Homo sapiens: one gene and its partners. The protein of the gene in region 1 purifies or fractionates together with the protein of each later gene. This does not show direct contact. Each region holds a gene or a part of one and is shown in the gene's direction. Other genes may lie near its edges. The genes, in order: CX3CL1, USP32 and C1GALT1.

Region 1 (3,746 bases):
GGACTGCAGGCACAGGCCACCACACTAATTTTCGTATATTTTTTGTAGGGAGGGGGTTTCACCATGTTTGTAGAGAGGGGGTTTTGCCAGGCTGGTCTCAGATTCCCGGGAATCTGCCTCTGCCTCCTGCCTCGGCCTCCCAAAGTGCTGGGATTACAGGTGTGAGCCACCACATCCGGCCTGGAGTCCTGTTTAGCCTTGGGTCTGGCTAGCCTGAAAGCCTGGTTATTGTGTCCAAATTAAATCTAAATTCAGTTCTTAACATCCTAATGAGATAGATGGGGGTGATCATTCCCATTTTATGGGAGTAGAAGCTGGACCTGGGGAGGGTAGAGGGTGTCCAAAGGGTCAAATGAGGAAAAGCAGAGCCGTGCTTTGCATTTTCGCTTCTATTTTATGCCAGGCTCTGTCCCGTACCCTATGGACATAAACTCACTTAGTCTTCACATTGGTCCTCGCAGTGAGGGTGGAGGCAGGTGGTGGACCCTACTGGTCTTGAGCTCAGACCTCAGAGCCAGCTGGCTGGGACGAATCCAGGATCCCTCATTTCCTGGCTGGTGAACCTAAGAAAATGTCTTTTTTTTTTTTTTTTTTTAGACAGAGTCTCACTCTGTCACCCAGGCTAGAGTGCAGTGGCGTGATCTTGGCTCACTGCAACCCTCTGCCTCCCAGGTTCAAGCGATTCTCCTGCCTCAGCCTCCCAAGTAGCTGGGATTACAGGTGTGCACCACACCCAGCTAATTTTTGTATTTTTAGTAGAGACGAGGTTTCACCGTGTTGGCCAGGCTGGCCTCGAACTCCTGACCTCAGGTGATCCACCCACCTCAGCCTCCCAAAGTGCTGGGATTACAGGCGTGAGCCATCGCACTCGGCCTCCTCCTCTGTTCTTACATGAACAGAGCAGAAAGAACACGACCTCAGTTTTTATCCCTCCTTGTCCCTCTCTGGGCCTCAGTTTCACCAGTTATAAAAAGAGGGATTGGACATTGGGAATGAGAAGGCTACTAGCTTCCCATGTGCACAGGCCAGGACAGATTCTCTGAGCATGAGTGGACCTTGGCTCCTGCCAAGGGTGTTCCGCTACTTCAAGAAGTATCTAGCCTCCTAACCCCTAACCCCATGCACCAGGCAGCCCATTGGGTTGGGTGGGGGGGCGGGGGGGGGTGGTTGAGGAGAGAGAGGTCCCTGGCCTTGGGATCTGTGGCCCCTCTGCCCAGCCCAACTGGCTCATAGCGTGGGATGCTGGCTCCACAACTGGTTTCCCTCAGATTGGCAGCCTGGAGACACCAGTACAGCTCAGTCCTATACCAAGGCAGAGCTGCTGACTCTTCTGGAGTCTCAGGGATTGTTGCCACTGCCTTTAGGGAAGGCTGCCATGAAGGCAGACTGTGTTCTAATGTGCTCCCAAGGCTGGCAAGCCTCTGCACCCTTCGGTGAGAGCCTGTTGGAGGGCCGGTGCTGGGAAGCCCTCTCCCCATTGCACTAGCCCAATGCTCTCTTTGGGCAGATAGAGAACTCAGGCCCCACGAGAGGCAAGCCTTATCCAAGCCACGGCTACAGAGTTGAGGAGCCAAGAGCCACAGAGTTATCGGGGATGGGTTGGCAGCCACCTTGTTCTTTGGGCTAACAGGGGCCAGAGCAGAGGTGGGAGTGGGTGCAAAGCAGGGAGCGGGAGACCGGGAGGTGGAGGCAGGGAGGCCAGGGCTCTCTCCTGGGTCCTGAGCTGTCCACATTCTGCTCATCATGGTGGTGGGAGGGGAGTTCTCCACTCTGATGCTGTGGATAACCTGGGGTGGCTCCGGGCCTCAGTTTCCCCATCTATCCATATGAAGTTGGACTCAATCCTTCTTTCAGCAGACCCTGCACCAAGCCCCTGCTGACTTCAGGCTCCCTGCTGGGCTCTGGAGATGCATAGATCAACAAGGTCCCCCAGGAGCTTGGGATTCTAAGAGGGGAAATTTAGGGGTCCATCCTGATGTGGGCGAGGCATTCTCTGGATCAAAGAAGAGCTTGTCAGACCCAGGATGGAGGGGCCCTGAGTCTCTCCCGGCCCCTTGGCGCCCCGCTCTCTATTCCACGGCCTGCTGGCCTTTTGTGTGTTGCCCACTTAGGATCAAGGGCCCCAGGCCAGATCCTAGGGCATGTTCCCAGCTTGTGGCAGGAGAGGAGGCCTTTGTACCCAGGCAGGCCCAGTCCAGCCTCCCGGGGAAGGTCCCAGTATGACAAGCCTAGGATGGTGAGAAGCCCAGGGACACAAAGCCGGCTTGGTTCCTTGGCAACATCCTGAGGAATCCAGCGGCTGCACACTGGCTCCCTTCCTCTCCCCTCCCACCCTCCTGCCTGCGGGGGCTGGAGGCGGAGGCAGCCAACCCCATTATAAAAAGCCACAGATCTCTGGCGGCGGCAAGGGGACAGCACTGAGCTCTGCCGCCTGGCTCTAGCCGCCTGCCTGGCCCCCGCCGGGACTCTTGCCCACCCTCAGCCATGGCTCCGATATCTCTGTCGTGGCTGCTCCGCTTGGCCACCTTCTGCCATCTGACTGTCCTGCTGGCTGGTAAGTGGGGCTTGACTTGGGCACAAACAGGGTAGGGAGCCCCCAGCCCCTTGTCTATCCCTCAAGCCTGACATCAGGGGCCCCAGACCCTGCCTGGGTAAAGCTCAAGGCCGGTGGCAGCCGCTTCCCCAGGGATGTGCGAGAGGGGGCTGGGCACCTCGCTTCCCCCAGATGCAGCGCTGGACAGATTTCCAGTTGCCAGCGACCGCCCTGCCTGGCCCAGCGAGCAAAGTGGCTGTGCCTGGAAGCACAGAGAGGTGGTGTGGGTGGCATAAGGGAGCCAGGTGTGGGTGTGCCAGGAGGGCGGGGGTGGAGAGAGCCTGCAGAAGCTCCTGCTGGGCACTGGGGTGGGAGGCCCTGGCTGACAGTGGCTGGCTCTTTCCATCAAGCGTTAATGTGTAACCCGCAGCCCTGGCCCTGGGCCAGGCCACAGTTGGGACTTTCTCCTGTCCTGTTTTCAAAGCCCCCAGGATTAGGGGGCCCAGGACCAGTGAAGGTCAAGGTCACTGCAGCTCATGGTTGGGGCTTGCCACTGCTGTGCTAGTCTATAGCCCCAGTTGCTCTGCCTGTGTCTACCCGTCATGCTGTCTTCCTCCTCCAAGCACAGTGTAGAAAATGCTTTTGCCTCTAGTCACTTGCTTACTGAAGCCCAGGACCTGGTAGGGGTACATAATTAACCATCCTACCTGATATGGATAAGATGGAGGCCCAGAGAGGTTTAGAAACTGGCCTGACAATGCACAGCCAGCAAGTAGGGCAGGAGAAGGTAAGACACATGGGACTGAATGCAGGAGAGAGCACAGATGCACACTCACCACCTCTGTGGGCCACATCACCTCCATGAACCGCTAGCCAGCCCCCTCCTCAGGGAGTGCCCCCACCATCTGGCAGGGTGACCTTCAGAGAAGGTGGGCACACAGCAAGTCTGGGAGAATGAGAAGTAGTCCCCACTGTCCAGATATTTCCATGGAGCAAACTCACCCTGGGGCAGGGAGCAGGTGTGTGGGTGGGTGGGCACGTGAGAGTGGTGGAGGCAAATTCCTGCTGGCTTCCTGCTGTCTGGGCTGGGGCCCTGAAGCCTGAGGTGTCTGCGGACAGTGAGATCTGGAAAGCAGGGAGTCAGATGGCGGCTGCTTTGCCACAGTCCTGTTATGTGACCGTGAGCAGGGTCTTGCCTCCTCTGGTCCCAGTT
Region 2 (3,746 bases), on another chromosome or scaffold:
GTTGCGGTGAGTCGAGATCGCGCCATTGCACTCCAGCCTGGGCAACAGGGGTGAAACTCCGTCTCAAAAAAAAAAAAAAGAAAAACACAGAATATTACCTTCTTTCTCTAGCAGGGTATATTAGAATCTGTTGGTTTTAGGAACTAATAACCTTTCCCTGGCCCTAAATTACCTAACCGGCACCTTGGGTCCAATCTAATCCAAATGGTTACTTTTTCAATATTGCTTCCTTTTCCAGAAGCTTTATTCCGTGACTTTTAGGTTGAAGACGCAAACTAAATAAGAGTTGAAAATCAAGGAACTAAATAATAATTCCACTGTACATATACACCCCATTTGGTTTCTCCATTTATGGTTTCCTATAGGTTGTGTTCACCTTTTGGCTCTCGTGAATAATGCTGCTATAAACACGGGGGCACAAATACCTGTTCACATCCCTGCTTTTCATTCTTTGGGAAATGGAGAGGTGGAGTGGGAGAGTCAGTCACATGCTGCCACACCATGAACCTGGAAGGCACGATGCCAAGTGAAATAAGCCAGTCACAAAAGAGAAAGTCTGCAGAGTTCCACTCAGAGGAAATACTTAAGAGTAGTGAAATTGATAGTAGGACAGCGGTTGCCACGGACCAGTGGGAGGGGGATTGGGGAGTTACCGTTTAATAGGCACAGAGTTTCCCTTTTGCAAGATGAAAAACGGTGGGAAATGGGACGTGGCAATGGATGCAAAACAATATCAATGTTCTTAACGCCACTGAACTCACTTAGAAATTGTGAAAATGGTACATTTTGTTACGTATATTTTACCACAGATTAAAACGACTCCACGCTAAGCCTTGTAGCCCTCATGTTTCTCGGGGAGAAACTCTGGGAGAGAGGATAAGCCTTTTGCACAGCGCTTTCCAGAGAATGTGTACAAGAGGCATGGTCAGGAGGAGAAGGTGGGCCGGGCAGGCGAGATGACCCGAAAAGGCAGATCCACTTCGTTAACAAGGTCCACTTTCCTCAGGGATCTCCCGCTAGGTGTGAGCATTCTTTTGTCACAGGAAAGCCTTGAGATTCTCCTTTCCTTTCACAACGCCCTCCCAGTCAAAGACGTCCCTAAGGTTGGGAGCTCCCTGCCTACCCACTCCTTTCTCTTCTGAGCCATATGCCGCATCCCTCAGAACCCCATTCCCTAAGATTCTGCGGTCTTCCATGTTAGGTCCCGGCAACTGCCACACTAACCGTCAGCTGCTCGGACCCCACCCGCCGAACGCCAGAACATGTGGGCGCGGGGGCGGGGGGGGTCGTCCTCAAGCGCCCCGGAAGTCACCACCCCCCGTCGCCAGCGGAGGCGCCCGGGCGGGGCGCGCGGCTGCGATTGGCGGGAAGATGGGACGATGCGTTACGTGCGGAGATGCGTCCCCCTCCCCGGCGCTCCTGCGCGCGGTTAGCTTGGGGAGGGGCGGAGCGTGCGGCCCTGGGCGGCCGTTACCGGGAACAGTGTCTGGCCTCGGGTCCCGTGACCCTCGGCGGAGCTGGCGGGAGGGGGCGGAAGTGGCAAGAGGGCGTGAGGAGGGAAGGAGAGGGAGGAGAGAGAGGAGAGAGAAGGGCGGAGTAGGAGGCAGGGGAAGGGGGCGGGGCGGAAGAGTCACGTGATCCGGCATGGAGGCGGTGGCGGCGACCGGGAGGAGCCGCCGGGGCAGAAGCCGCACTTGTTAGTGTGGGGGGAGGTGGGGGCGGGGGACGCCGACACCGTCACCGTCACCCAGGGACGCCGAGGAGAAGGCGGGAGGGGGGTGGGGGCGAGATCAGGCTCCGACCCCCCGCCGAGGGGATGAGGGGAGCATGGGTGCCAAGGAGTCACGGATCGGATTCCTCAGCTACGAGGAGGCGCTGAGGAGAGGTGAGGGGGGAGGGGTCTGGGCGAGCTGCCTGGGAGGCCCGCGACGGGCAGCCTGGAGGGTGGGTAACCGGGAGGGAGAGGGGAGATTGAGGGCGTGGGGCGCCTGAGGCGGAAGGGAAAGGCGGCCGGCCTTGGGGAGTGTGGTGGAGGAGAGAGGTCGGGTGGGAAGCAGCGTTTGGGAATTAGGGCCGTTTGGAAAGGGGCTTGTCCTGAGAGAGGGGGATCGGCGCTGGCAGGGCAGTGCCCGTGCTCGCTGGTGGCGTTGTGATCCTGGATGTGTCCAGGGAAGTCCTCTCCCCGTTTTCTTGGGCGGCTCCAGCCCATCCAGCCCCCCTCATCCTTCATTGCCATTTTCTCCTATCATTCCTTCATAAAAACCTCAAATAACATCCTAACCTCGTTCCTAACAGCCTTAGCTGGAAGGGGACGAGGAGGCGGCTGCAAAGCGCTCCTCTCTGCTACTGGAAGCCCCTTCGTATCTGGGGAGTCCCTGCCTTTTCCCAGAGCCTATGCCTGTCTCTTGAGGGCTGTGGCCATCCGCTTCTGCCACCCTTCACCGTTTGAGCGGCTGACTTTGATAAGAACGATCTGAAATGAAGTTGTGTTTGAGGTGAGATGAGACTGGACAGCTGGCGTTGGCACCAGACCTTGTCTTAGGTTTCATCTCCTCCGACGTTGACCAAAGCCTTTGACTGCACTTGATGCCCAGTTCTCGCTCCATCCCTCTCCATGAAATGGCATTGGGAAGTCCAGCATTCAGATATTGTGTTAAATCTCCCTTTAGAGACTGGCCTGGCTGCCAGTCCCGGCCTGCTGCTTATTGGCTCTGAGGCACAGTATATTGTTGGCAGCCCCAACCCCCTACCACTCACTCTGATACCGCTGTCCATGATCACTAAAGCACACACTAACTGGAAGTGTCTTGTTGCACAGTTTATGGCCGGAATGTCTTAATTTTTCATGACTGGGATTTCAGTGTGTGTAGATCTGTGTATGCTTGTATTTCTTTTAGACATTTAATGGATATTCTTGGTAAGAAGTGAAAAAACATTAAGAAGATTAGGAGCTAGGCATTATTGTTAACAGGTTTCCAAGTCAAGAAATCAGCCATGCTCCAGGTGGTTTTAGTAGCTAAGGATATAAAATGGTAATTAGATTAAAAGACGGGTATTCAAAATGAGGCTTGAGAAGTGAACTCTTGTTCGTATATAGGAAGAAGAGGGGTAAGTGGGTAAGTTCAGTTGACCATCACCTGACAGTAAGATACAGAATTGAGATGTATTGGTGGTGGTGGATTTACCAGAATAACACAGATATGCCTTTTATGTCTTTCTTTCTTTTTCCCTTGTGGAACAGTATAATAATTGTTTTTATGGACAATCTCATTTGAACTTTTTTTGTCTGCCCCAATATGAGAAATATTCCAAATTCTTGATGTGTTTCCAGCCCTAGTAGGCTAGTCATTTCCGGGATGCTGTTGAGCCTGACAGGTCTGGCCTCAATTAGGCAATGGCTTACATGGCATGAAAGAGGACATTAGTCAAACTGATTTACAGCTTCAAGGTTCAGAAGTGTTTCTTAAGTTTGAGGGTGTGAATACTAGTGATGTACCTGGCATTGAGAAATTCCAAAATTAAACTTGTATTCAGCTCTAGCCTGCTTAATCTCCTATCAAACTAAGATGGTACGTTTGTAAATACAAATGAAGTTAATTGCATTTTAAACTGATCTGACTGGAAGGTTTTTGTTTAATTTCTTATACAGTGTCTGCCTGTTGAATTTTAAAACACATGTATTTGAAGAGATAGCAAAATCTTTGTTAAGAGCTTATTTGTAACTATTGGAATGAATTTATGTTTTT
Region 3 (3,746 bases), on another chromosome or scaffold:
ATGCCTAGAAGAATGTAACACAAAATTTAAGAAATGGTTATCTCTATATTATGGTATTTGGACAGATTTTAACTTCTTTGCATTTTTGTTTAAATTTTTTAAATTTGTTTGCATAAGCATGTATTGTTTTTATAAAACAATAGTTATTAGCTGGGTGCCACAGCCTGTGCCTGTAATCCCAACTACTGGGGAGGCTAAGGCGGGAAGATTGCTTCAGCCTTCAGCCCAGTTATTCGAGGCTGTTGTGTGCCAAGATCACACCTGTGAATAGCCACTGCATTCCAGCCTGGGCAACATAGAAAGACCATATCTCTTCAAAAAAAAAAAAAAGCTATTTTCAAAGAAAGGCAGGGTGGGGGCAGGGCTGATTTGGTCCAGTATTGTTTCTAGCAAGTAATTTTCCAGGATAAGGCTGTGGCTGACCTTATTTTAGGAAAGGGTTCTAATCTTTGCTCAATGGAAAAAAGTGTTATTCTTTATTAATTATAACTTTTAATAAAATTAAAACGAGATAAGGAGTTGTGAGTTTTGGTTTCTATTTGGAACACTGACCCCTGAAAGAGTTCTCCTTCCATGTTTCACAATGGATGGCAAGACATTGCGGAAAGGTGGAAGGATGTTGCGGAAAGGTGGAAGGATATTGCGGAAAGGTGGAAGGATATTGCGGAAAGGTGGAGGGGGAGGAGGCTGAGCAACAACTGTATACAAGTTGGGGAGGAGTAGAGAATGGACGTAATCATGTAAGGCAGAGAAGTCTGGACCCATGAGCCAAGGAAAGAGCAATAACCTGGACATCAGGATAGCTGCACTTCTCTTCTAACATGGACCTATCAGTTTATCTTTCTGGCCTTAGTTTTGTCATCTGAAAAATGAGACATCTGTATTAGAATCACTACATGTGCTTTATGTTTCACAATTCTTTTGGATATATTGATGCAATGTCCTGAGAAACTACACTACAGCTGAACCTAAGCAAATTAAAGGAAAAATAACAATAACTAATGTATATTATTATTTGTCTCAGGCATTCTAAGTAACTTGCCAATAGGTGGAGGGACCAAGATGCCAGCCCGGGCAGTCTGATTTCAGAGCCCATACTCTTTAACAACCATGCTGTAGAGTACTAAAGAACCGCTTGGATAGGGCATTTAAAGGAAGCAGGGTAGCTTTCCTATTCTGGAACGTGGTCTTGTAGATAATGGTTAACGCCAGTAAAGACTAAACCTTACCCTCACCTCATGACTATTGTGGGGTTGCCTCAACAGGTGGCAGCCTCCTCCCCCTATTCCAAAGACAACTTCCTTATTCAGAGCCCAGCGAAAGGGGAGATAGGTTTTGTTACGCCCCTAAGAAGCTCTTCCGGCCATTGCCCCACAGAACCGAAGTGCTGACAGAACCAAAGACGAAATGTGCCTATAGAAAGCTTTCTGGTATCATTATCTCGGTTCTCAGCTCTTCCTGGTTCTCACATGATGACCCAGCACCCGTATGCATACTTCATCTTATTACTTCCTTTTATTAAGCCCAGAGAGATACTGAGTAAAGAGAGCACGGGGAGAGAACAGAAAAACAAATGAACGGGTTAAGAGCAGGCTACAGGCCACAAGAGTCCTGCAGGGTTAGAGCCTGTACCTCAGACAAAGGTCCTTCAAGCATCCCCTTTCTCGCTCCCTATTGTTACCCTGCTTTCGTCCCGCTCAAGGTCTTGAAGCTAGTGCATAACCTTACAGCAGGATCAGAAATGCGGAGAGTAGCAGACACAAGCCGCAAGGGGGATACAACAAAATCTACTGCTCGTGCAAGATCCGACTTCCCAGACCCCTTCGCATTAGGGCGGAGCGTGCACCCGGCAGCCAATCCCCGCTTCCTCACGTCGCCGTATCCCCGCCCACCGCCCCTCCCGCTCCGCCCTTCCCTGGGGCTGGTGCGGCGGCGGAGACGTCAGCGCCAGGAGACTTCGGGTGGCGGCTGCGCCATAGGCGGGCCACGGCCTGGACGCGCTGCGGGGAGGGGCGGAGCGAGCGGGCGGGAGCGCGCGCTGGGCCCGCCTTGGCCGCCGCCGCTGTGCTGCCGCTGCCGGGGAATAATCTGGGCGGCAGCGGGCGGCCTCGGCTAGCGGCCACGAGCCACTTCTGCGGCTGCCCAGAGAAGCAAAGGTCACCAGTCCCAAGTCGTCCCCCTCTCCGCCCCCCAGGAGGGGCGAGAGGGAGCCGCAGCTGATGTCAGGTATGGCCGGCGGAGGCGCCCTCAGGCTACGGGTCCAAGGTCTCGTCTCCCCTCGCCCTCCCCCCTCTCCGGGTTGGTGGGGAAGCGTGGAGGATGGAACCAAACCCCGGGCGCGGCGGAACAGGTGTCTCGGGGTCAAAGCCGGGCTGGGGTCGTCCGGGCTCCTGAGGAAGGCGCGAGGACTTCCCGCTCCCGGAGCCTTAGCGATCTGCCACAGCGTTCGGCTGCGTACCCGGCCTCAATTTTGTGGACATGTACCCTCCTCTTCGTCGTGGGTCCTTCCCTTGTGCCCGCTCGCGCCCCTCTTCTGCTCGCGCGCTGCCTGGCGGCGCGGCGGGGCGCGCAGTGCGCCCGGACCGGACCACTTAGCGGTCCTGCCCCGCCGGGCCCTCCCAGTCCCTCCTCCCGGGCCCTCCCCGCCCCGCCGCAGACCTGTGGGTCCCGCCGGACTGGGCGCCCAGGTGTTGGGCACCTTCGCCGGGGAGCCACTCGGCTGCCGCGCCGCCTGAGCGCCCAGCGAGCGGGCTCCTTCCAGAGGTGCCTGGAGCTTGCTTGGGTCTAGCTTGGATCATCAGGTTTGTCTGTAGCTGATTTATTTCTTTAAGTTTCCCTGCCGCAGAGTGAAGCAGATACGTGTGTGTTGGGGCATTCGGGGCATGGAGGAGGAAGAAAGGCATTAAATTTTTTTTTTTTGCTTCTGCACCCCATTTTTCCCCAACAAATTGTGATGGAATTAGTAGGTGTTGACAAGTTGTCCATTTGCTTTGAATTTGGGTAAGTCGTACACTCTTAAAAGATGACCATAATTTAGCGCTGTGGATTTATTCTTTCCTGGTCCTTACCGTCTCCCCACCCCCCACCACCCCGCATTTAAAGCAAACAACAGTATCAGCAACAAAAAACCCACACATCCTGGAAAAATTCTCAAGATTTCTAACCTAGTTCTCTATATCCATTGTACATACTACTGTATTTCCTTTTAACGCTTTTTTAAGATAGAAAACTATTGTGCTAACCATGGATTGATTTCATTATGAATTTAAAAGTTATAAATTTAGAACCATAATGAATCAATGAATAATTGGCCGATGTGTAAGGGAGAGAAATATGTTAACTTACTAAAAGTTGGGCATAGAACATAGCTCTGCCAGGAAAAAGTGCGCATAATTTCAAGTTGCTTCATTCTGGTGTGAGTTTGGGAAGTTGGAATCCGAGTTTTTAGAAGGTATTTAGATGACAGCTTTTCACCCTCTTAGGTAAATGGCAGTTGAGCTTAATGCCCATGATGCTGTATGTTCTAAATATTGTATATAGTACACTATACTTTCTACCAGTCTTTATATATAGATGTACAGTTTAAGTGAATATAAAGTTTCAAGTTAGCAAACAGTTAACTCTTCACCTTATGGTAAGTGAAACAATGACTTAGTAAGGAAAGTATGACTCATTTAAAATTCTTCATAAAGAGAATAATTTTTCAGTATTAGTGGAGAGCTACTAAATGCCTCTCAAATTTGCCT

Evidence for each region.
Region 2: the proteins of CX3CL1 (region 1) and USP32 purify together in Homo sapiens (co-immunoprecipitation; 2 studies listed by BioGRID and IntAct, with this or other methods). This does not show direct contact.
Region 3: the proteins of CX3CL1 (region 1) and C1GALT1 purify together in Homo sapiens (co-immunoprecipitation; 2 studies listed by BioGRID and IntAct, with this or other methods). This does not show direct contact.

Annotation. Positions count from the first base shown.
Region 1 is NC_000016.10:57,370,085-57,373,830, forward strand, and holds the start of CX3CL1 (fractalkine isoform 1 precursor), read left to right. Parts: upstream 1-2,405; 5' UTR 2,406-2,484; coding exon 2,485-2,554; intron 2,555-3,746. UniProt on the Homo sapiens protein: Chemokine that acts as a ligand for both CX3CR1 and integrins ITGAV:ITGB3 and ITGA4:ITGB1. The CX3CR1-CX3CL1 signaling exerts distinct functions in different tissue compartments, such as immune response, inflammation, cell adhesion and chemotaxis.
Region 2 is NC_000017.11:60,390,021-60,393,766, reverse strand, and holds the start of USP32 (ubiquitin carboxyl-terminal hydrolase 32), read left to right. Parts: upstream 1-1,633; 5' UTR 1,634-1,827; coding exon 1,828-1,885; intron 1,886-2,139; exon of another isoform or gene 2,140-3,746. UniProt on the Homo sapiens protein: Deubiquitinase that can remove conjugated ubiquitin from target proteins, such as RAB7A and LAMTOR1.
Region 3 is NC_000007.14:7,180,595-7,184,340, forward strand, and holds the start of C1GALT1 (glycoprotein-N-acetylgalactosamine 3-beta-galactosyltransferase 1), read left to right. Parts: upstream 1-1,949; 5' UTR 1,950-2,226; exon of another isoform or gene 2,227-2,801; intron 2,802-2,831; exon of another isoform or gene 2,832-3,000; intron 3,001-3,746. UniProt on the Homo sapiens protein: Glycosyltransferase that generates the core 1 O-glycan Gal-beta1-3GalNAc-alpha1-Ser/Thr (T antigen), which is a precursor for many extended O-glycans in glycoproteins.